Homo sapiens: one gene and its partner. The protein of the gene in region 1 interacts with the protein of each later gene in a pairwise test. Each region holds a gene or a part of one and is shown on either strand. Other genes may lie near its edges. The genes, in order: HJV and TMPRSS6.

What was found.
Region 2: the proteins of HJV (region 1) and TMPRSS6 interact in binary tests that used the Homo sapiens proteins (3 or more experiments, as listed by UniProt).

Annotation. Positions count from the first base shown.
Region 1 is NC_000001.11:146,018,889-146,023,471, reverse strand, and holds the start of HJV (hemojuvelin isoform a precursor), read left to right. Parts: upstream 1-1,736; 5' UTR 1,737-1,885; intron 1,886-3,133; exon of another isoform or gene 3,134-3,151; 5' UTR 3,152-3,240; coding exon 3,241-3,337; intron 3,338-3,737; coding exon 3,738-4,297; intron 4,298-4,583. UniProt on the Homo sapiens protein: Acts as a bone morphogenetic protein (BMP) coreceptor. Through enhancement of BMP signaling regulates hepcidin (HAMP) expression and regulates iron homeostasis.
Region 2 is NC_000022.11:37,092,441-37,096,250, forward strand, and holds part of TMPRSS6 (transmembrane protease serine 6), read right to left. Parts: intron 3,651-3,810; coding exon 3,466-3,650; intron 3,153-3,465; coding exon 3,111-3,152; intron 1-3,110. UniProt on the Homo sapiens protein: Membrane-bound serine protease. Through the cleavage of cell surface hemojuvelin (HJV), a regulator of the expression of the iron absorption-regulating hormone hepicidin/HAMP, plays a role in iron homeostasis.

The DNA of each region.
Region 1 (4,583 bases):
TAAAAAGCAGGCAGAAAAATATGAAAGGAGAGACTGGCCTAGCCTCCCAGCCTACATATTTCTCCCATGCTGGATGCTTCCTGCCCTTGAACATCAGACTCCAAGTTCTTCAATTTTGAGACTGAGACTGGCTCTCCTTGCCCCTCAAGCTTGCAGACAGCCTACTGTGGGACCCTGTGATTGTGTAAGTTAATACTTAATAAATTCCCCTTTATTTATATATCTACCTATATAGATATCCATATCTATATAGATATTAATAAATCTAGAGAGACAGAAAGCAGACTGGTGATGGCCAGTCTAGATGGCTAGATAGATAGACATGGATATAGATATAGATCTCTATATAGATAGAGGTAGATACAGATATAGATATATGCCCTATTAGTTCTGTTCCTCTAGAGAACCCTAATACAGTGACCGTATTTGGAATCGGTCCTTCTGTTAATTTCACTTGGCAAGTACTAAAAGATGATGATCTCAGATATACCTATGGCTGCAAAAACATGACATGGCTAAATCCCTTGGTTGCAGTATCTCTTTTCTTTTTTAAGGGGGGTGGGGGGGCGGGTCTCACTGTTGCCCAGGCTGGAGTGCAATGGCGTTATCATAGCTCACTGCAGCCTCAAACTCCTGCGCTCAAGTGACCCTCCTGCCTCAGCTCCCAAAGTGCTGAGATTTTGCAATATTTATGGTCACAAGATTATGTTATTCCATAAAAGTATCTTTCTGAGGCTAGGCATGTTGGTTCACACTTGTAATCCCAGCACTCTGAGAGGCTGAGATGGAAGGATTCATTGAGGCAAGGAGTTCAAGACCAGCCTGGTCAACATAGTGAGACCTCATCTCGGAAGGAAGGAAGGAAGGAGGGAGGGAGGGAGGGAGGGAGTGAAGGAAGGAAGGAAGGAAGGAAGGAAGGAAGGAAGGAAGGAAGGAAAAGTATATTTTTGAATCTTTTTCTATTTCTCCAACTCTTTCTTTAGAAGAATTCTATTTCCATTCTTTCTTCACCTCTTTGCCTTTGTTAGCCTTCTCTCCAAGCAAATCGGGAGCCTTTATTTTTTGTGTATTCATGAGGGAGAGGAAGATGAATTGCTGTACAAACTAAAGTAATGAAAATGGAGTAGGTAGGAGGATAGACAGCTGCAAGGATCTGAGCTGGATAGACTGAACAAACCCTCATCCTAAGCAACTCACAGCTCAGATTTCTTCTCTGGACAGCTGGCTTTTTTCGTCCTTCTGAAATACTCTGCAAAGATAGGAGAGGGGCTATGAACTACCTCTGCTATGGATCTTATTCAAAGTCAGCTACCTCCTAGATACTATCTGTAGAACCTAAATGTAATATTCAGCATAGCAGGGATGAACATGGTAAATGAAAGGTATCCAATTGCCCACTGTAATTTTTAAAGGCCAGGAGCTCAACATTATTGAAAATGCTGGAGGGCTGCCTGGAGTAGGCAGTGACCACAGAGTCACACAAGCTGGAATTGGATATCCAACTTGTCTGTCATATTTCTCTCCTCCCTCCCTGACTTGGCACTCAATACTCCATATTCTTTCTAATCCTCTAACCCTCCCCACTCCCCCAACTCCCACACCCTACCCCCACCAACGTTCCTGGAATTTTGGACTTAGCTATTTTTAAAACCGTCAACTCAGTAGCCACCTCCCTCCCTGCTCAGCTGTCCAGTACTCTGGCCAGCCATATACTCCCCCTTCCCCCCATACCAAACCTTCTCTGGTTCCCTGACCTCAGTGAGACAGCAGCCGGCCTGGGGACCTGGGGGAGACACGGAGGACCCCCTGGCTGGAGCTGACCCACAGAGTAGGGAATCATGGCTGGAGAATTGGATAGCAGAGTAATGTTTGACCTCTGGAAACAGTAAGTCAAAATGAAATTGCAATTCCTTTAATAAGCTTTTATATTGAAGTTAGACTTTTATAAAATTACAAACACCTACTTGGATGTCTCTCGTCCAAATGCTGGGATCTCTCCCTACCAAGGTGCCCCAATCTCCATTTCTCTTTCTGTCTTATTTCTTTCTGGCCTCTGGCCTCTAGCTTTTTGAAGTTTAATTCTCTGTCTCTCCTCTGGCAGTCTTAGCCCTCTCTTTACCTTATTACCTCAAGACTCCTGATGAAGTTTTAGAAGGAGTTCCCTACGTCCTCTATTCTGTAGTTTTCTTACCAAGGCCAAATATGACCTCAGATGATGAGTCACTGATACCCTTCTATCCTGCCCCCACTTAGCAATGCCCTTCACATTGAGATTCCAAGCATGGGGGCTGCTCCCTGTAAATGATTTCTCCCCACAACTCTAGTCCCTCCATTCTATTCTCCCTCTTGCAGGACTCTTCCCCCAATCATATCCTTACCCATAAGATAGGGGAGTTAGGCAGGAGGGATTTAGCCCCTCTCCAACTCCTGTCATCATAAAAGACTGAGAACTTCAGAATTTGAAAAGAAGAGATTAATGGAAGGAGTGATATTTGGGAAAATACAAGAACTGTTGACTTAGAAAAAACAAATATTGATTTGCATGTTTGGTTTGCATCCCATTATTCCATGAGAGAGGGAGATTAAAATTGCAGCTCTCTAGAGCTGATGAAAAGAGATTGGTTTCCTTTTCATTTGAATACTGATATTCTAGACGGGATGGGTATGCCACCCTTAATCCTTCTTGTGTTCTGACACAAAGGAGGAAAAGAAATGTATGACTCCTAGAGGGCATCTCCTCCTAATGGAGAGGGACAAATAAGAAGTATGTTTCTGAAATATTTTCAGGTCCTAATTTTACTAGGGTACCCACTAGGATTACTGGTATCTGATCTAGCCCCATGATTCCTCCATCTTTGACATACCTGCTGTTTGGTAGCTCAGAATGGAGCAATACAGTGGACTCTGCCCCCTTGAGTTCACTCAACCTTCCCTCCACCCCCACCTAGGGGTATTGCACAAGGGCCCTAAAAGTGGCCACAGGAACAGGGCAAAGAGGCTTAACTGCCACACTTATAGTTTGAGGAACTCCAATCTCCCCAAATTCCAGTCTGTTCATCCTTTTCTTGATCTCCCCAGATTCACTCCACATTATCCTTACCAATCTTCAATTCTTCTCTCTCTCCATGTCCAGCCAAATTTCTTTTTTCAGTCACTTACAGGGCTTCCGGTCAAAATTCACTAGGTAGGAGGGTCATCAGCTGGGAAGAACCGGCGCCTGGGAAACCTGGCTGGATAGGTATGGGGGAGCCAGGCCAGTCCCCTAGTCCCAGGTCCTCCCATGGCAGTCCCCCAACTCTAAGCACTCTCACTCTCCTGCTGCTCCTCTGTGGACATGGTAAGGAAGGGCCAGGGAAGGGTTTGGGGAAATCTAGAGGGTAGGCTGCTATGTAGGGGTGGGCATGTGAGCCTGAATGAGTGAGGAGAGATAGGCGCTGAGAGTCCCGATCACTCGCCCTGCTCTCAAATACTAATATTTTATTTCCCGTTCAGTCTGGGGAAGGCCACTGGGGAAGCCCTTGGTCGACAGGCAGAAGAGATGTGGCAGGCTTACACACTTTTAGTAAGACAGCCGAGAGAACTAGGGACTAGGGGGTTGGGGGCTGGGGAAGGCCCTTAGTTAGGTTTTAGGAAGGCTGGAAACCCCTGATGAGATTTGGAAGAGTTATGAGCAAACTACACTCCGATAGAGCAGAGGTCTGAGGACCGTCTCACAATCCTCTCCCTTCTGTCTTTAGCTCATTCTCAATGCAAGATCCTCCGCTGCAATGCTGAGTACGTATCGTCCACTCTGAGCCTTAGAGGTGGGGGTTCATCAGGAGCACTTCGAGGAGGAGGAGGAGGAGGCCGGGGTGGAGGGGTGGGCTCTGGCGGCCTCTGTCGAGCCCTCCGCTCCTATGCGCTCTGCACTCGGCGCACCGCCCGCACCTGCCGCGGGGACCTCGCCTTCCATTCGGCGGTACATGGCATCGAAGACCTGATGATCCAGCACAACTGCTCCCGCCAGGGCCCTACAGCCCCTCCCCCGCCCCGGGGCCCCGCCCTTCCAGGCGCGGGCTCCGGCCTCCCTGCCCCGGACCCTTGTGACTATGAAGGCCGGTTTTCCCGGCTGCATGGTCGTCCCCCGGGGTTCTTGCATTGCGCTTCCTTCGGGGACCCCCATGTGCGCAGCTTCCACCATCACTTTCACACATGCCGTGTCCAAGGAGCTTGGCCTCTACTGGATAATGACTTCCTCTTTGTCCAAGCCACCAGCTCCCCCATGGCGTTGGGGGCCAACGCTACCGCCACCCGGAAGGTCAGGCACTCAATCTTCCTTCCGATCCACCTCATGAGATTCTTCCACGGGCACCATTCCTCCCCATCCCCACTATTCAACAGCAATGCTCCCTAATTCCCTTTTCTTCCTCAACCTCTCCCCCATCTCGAATCACTCCCTTCTACCAAACACCTGGAGCTGTAAATCACTTCCCCTTGATGGGAATTTGACTCAAATGCAGAAAACCTTGAAGAGACAGTCGGAGAGGGCGGACCTGAGGAGTTTCAGAAGGGAAACTTTTCCCTCTCCTAGGAAGTTGCCACGA
Region 2 (3,810 bases), on another chromosome or scaffold:
CCTTAGCCCCCCACCCCCACCCCCGAGTAGCTAGGACTACAGGTGCACACCACCATGTCCAGCTAATTTTTTTTTTAATGGAATTTGCTCTTGCTGCCCAGGCTGGAGTGCAATGGTGCAATCTTGGCTCACTGCAACCTCCACCTCCTGGGTTCAAGCAATTCTCCTGCCTCAGCCTCCCAAGTAGCTGGGATTACAGGCATGGGCCACCATGACCAGCTAATTTTGTATTTTCAGTAGAGATGGGGTTTTGCCATGTTGGCCAGGCTGGCCTCGAACTCCTGACCTCAGGTGATCCGCTCAACTTGGCCTCCCAAAGTGCTGGGATTACAGGCTTGTGCCACCACGCCCGGCCCATGCCCAAATCTGATGCCCCCTCCATGAAGTCTTCCAGGATCCCCCAGTCAGGAGCAACCCCTCCCTCCTGTAGATCTGGGACTCTGTGTGAGGCTCTTGATTTGCCCCCTCTTCTGCTTTGGAACGAACAATTCCCTCTCTCCACTGCCTCTGGGGCCTCTATTCTCACACTGGCACCTGGTGTTATGAGAATCTGTTTATGTGTCTGTCTCCCTCATGGGGCTTAAAGCTCCTCCGAGGGCAGGGGTGAGGACACGGTCATCCTGGTGTCCTCAGCGCAGGAATGGGGCCTGGCATGAAGGAAGTGCTCATAAAGTCGACTTCAAGGATTTGAGTTGTTATCTCTGCCCCCTGAGACTCTGTGCTCTGGACATGCACTGAACCAGTCTCCTCATTCATGCTTTCATTCATTTGTTCAATCATTCATTCATGAAACGAACACCCACTGAGCACAGATAATTACAGAACAACTGCCAGGAACATGGGGACACAGAGGCACGAGGCAACATGAGGCTATTACATAGCACTTCTATTGCAGGAGAAAAAATAACTTTCCATAGGACCTTTTCCTTTCCTTTCTTTCTTTCTTTTTTTTTTTTTTTTTTTTTTTTTTTTGAGATGGAGTCTCACTCTGTCGCCCAGGCTGGAGTACAGTGGCACAACCTCACAATCTCAGCTCACTGCAAGCTCCATCTTCCGGGTTCAAGTGATTCTCCTGCCTCAGCCTCCTGACTGGTTAGGACTACAGGTGCGCACCACCATGCCCGGCTAATTTTTATATTTTTAGAAGAGACGGGGTTTCGCCTTCTTGGCCAGGCTGGTCTCAAACTCCTGACCTCAGGTGATCTGCCTGCCTCTGCCTCCCAAAGTGCTGGGTTACAGGCATGAGCCACCATGCCTGGCTGACTTTTATATTTTTTAATAATTGAAAAATGGCCTATGGAGCCAGGCGTGGTGGCTCACACCTGTAATCCCAGCACTTTGGGAGGTGGAGGCAGGTGGATCACCTGAGGTCAGGAGCTCGAGACCAGCCTGGCCAACACGGCAAAACCTCATCTCTTCTAAAAATATACAAATTAGCCAGGCATGGTGGCAGGCACCTGTAGTCCCAGCTACTCAGGAGGCTGAAGCAGGAGAATTGCTTGAACCTGGGAGGTGGAGGTTGCAATGAGCCAAGATCGCGGCACTGCACTCCAGCCTGGATGACAGAGTGAGACTCTGTTATATATATATATATGTCATTCTTGGCTCATGGGCTATACAAAATCAGGCAGCAATTGACCAGATTCGGTGTCCAGGCTGCAATGAGCCAGTCTCTGTCTCCAAGCATCATCTGATTAAGTCCCCCTGAGGCTCTCAGGAGTAATATCTCTGACTTACTATTGGTTGTAGATTATCAACCTCAGACTCTGTAGAGGTAGATGTTAACTTTCAGAAGACTGTAATAAGCTGTCAATGATTTTAATTCACTAGAAAAGACAACTCCAAAGGTTTGAGTTTTCTTGCCTGGTAGGACCTTAACCAGGTTTGTATCTAACTTGGTAATCTTATTCTAGCAATTCTCTTTTTCCATTAATGATTGATGATAGATAGATAGATAGATAGATAGATAGATAGATAGATAGATAGATATAAACAGACAGCTAGCTAGCTAGACAGACAGAGACAGAGAGACAGACAGATAGATAATAGACAGCTAGCTAGTTAGATAACTAGATAGACAAGCAGACAGATATCAACAGAGATGATAGATAGATAGATAGATAGATAGACAAATAGATCAGTTTCTTGCATTCTTTACCATTCTACTCGTTCCCCCATTAATCAGCCAAATAAATATTTGACACATGGTCACTCTATCTTTGTATGAGAATCATGATTTCACCTCTTTGAAAACTGTACTTTGACCTCATCACCTCCATCCAACAAAGAAGCAAGCATTTGACCAGCAGGATGGGAAGACGGGAAGGTAAGGAAAGGTATAACAAGGATTTAAACTCTGCCTCCCTCCCTGAGAAGGGGTTGAGACGCTCACCCCCACCTTGGCTCTGGGTGACAACACTAGATAGTGTGGGAGGAATCTGAGAATTTAGGGGCCATAGAGTCCAGCAGCCAGTTGGTGCACTGCACAACTCACACAAACTACAACTTGGACAGCACCTCCTGCCTTGTGCAGCGTGGTGACTGTGCTGGTCAGCTGAAAGATTGTGGGTCCGCTTGGAGAAATGCAAGGTGACTCTAGCAATACGGCACCAGGTAGGGAGGGAGGGCTGATGAGCCTGACTGGGAAGGAAAGGAAAAGAGGGAAGGAGCGTTCTTGAATGCAATGGCACCGCTACCTCCAAAAGACCAAGTTTTAAAACCAACGTGACTGACAAACCGTGAATTGGCAAGATGATTTTCTACCATCAGTGGAAACTAGCTTGTGGGCAGGTTGAAGTGAATGATAGAGGAGAGTCACGTTCGTGGACCACTAAACCTGACTCATCCTCACACCCACACAGGAACGCATGCACACCCGTCTACAAGACACACACAAATACACGCATGCACGTCGCCACCTCCTCTCCCCCTACAGGCTCCAAGACTTGCTTGGGACACATCGCTGAGTCCACCATGGCATCCCCTGGGTGACTCTTGGCCAGGGCTCCCTGCACACACAACAGAAGCCATGTGTCCCCCTGATACACAACAAAGTCAAGACAAATGCCAACTCAAAAGGAAAATGGGGAGGGGAAAAAAAAATAGCGTACCCAGCGTGGAATTCAATGCAGCTATGTCTTTCACACTGGCTTCTGATAAAAGGAAATGAACAAACAAATAAACAAGAACAAAAAAAAAAAAAAAGAAAAGAAAATACAATGAAAATAAAATTAGAGGAGACCCTTGGAGCCAGCCTTGTCTGAGATTTACCCTAAATGCCCCCATCCCACCCTTCTTTCCTGGCTCCTTGAATGCAATGGCACTGCTACCTCACCTGGGGGGCTCTCCTGGGGGGCCCACCCTGACAGCACCCCAGGCCTGGCAGGCAGCCTCCCCGGGCCACACCACAGCTTGTTTCCCCCAACCTCATGAGGCCAACCCCACGTTTCCACTCGCAGTACTGACCCAGGATCACTAGGCCCTCGGGGTCCACTTCGTACTCGGCCCTGTAGGGGACGGCAGCCGAGCTGTTGACTGTGGACAGCAGCTCCTCCACCAGCAGTGCCTGCACCACCTCGGGGCTCAGCATCAGCCGGCGGTGCTCGGGGATTTGGAGAATGAACCAGAAGAAGCAGGTGAGGGGTCCCTCCCTAAGGCAGGCAGAAGTGAGAGAGGCCAGGGAAGGATTCTGAGGTCTGGCCCCAGCTCCACCCCTGCTCATGCACATCGAGCACTTTCCGCACCTCAGCCATTGCTGTCCGTCTTCACGCAGAAGCCTCCTAGCGACCTCTGAAGGAGGCGCTCTCATAA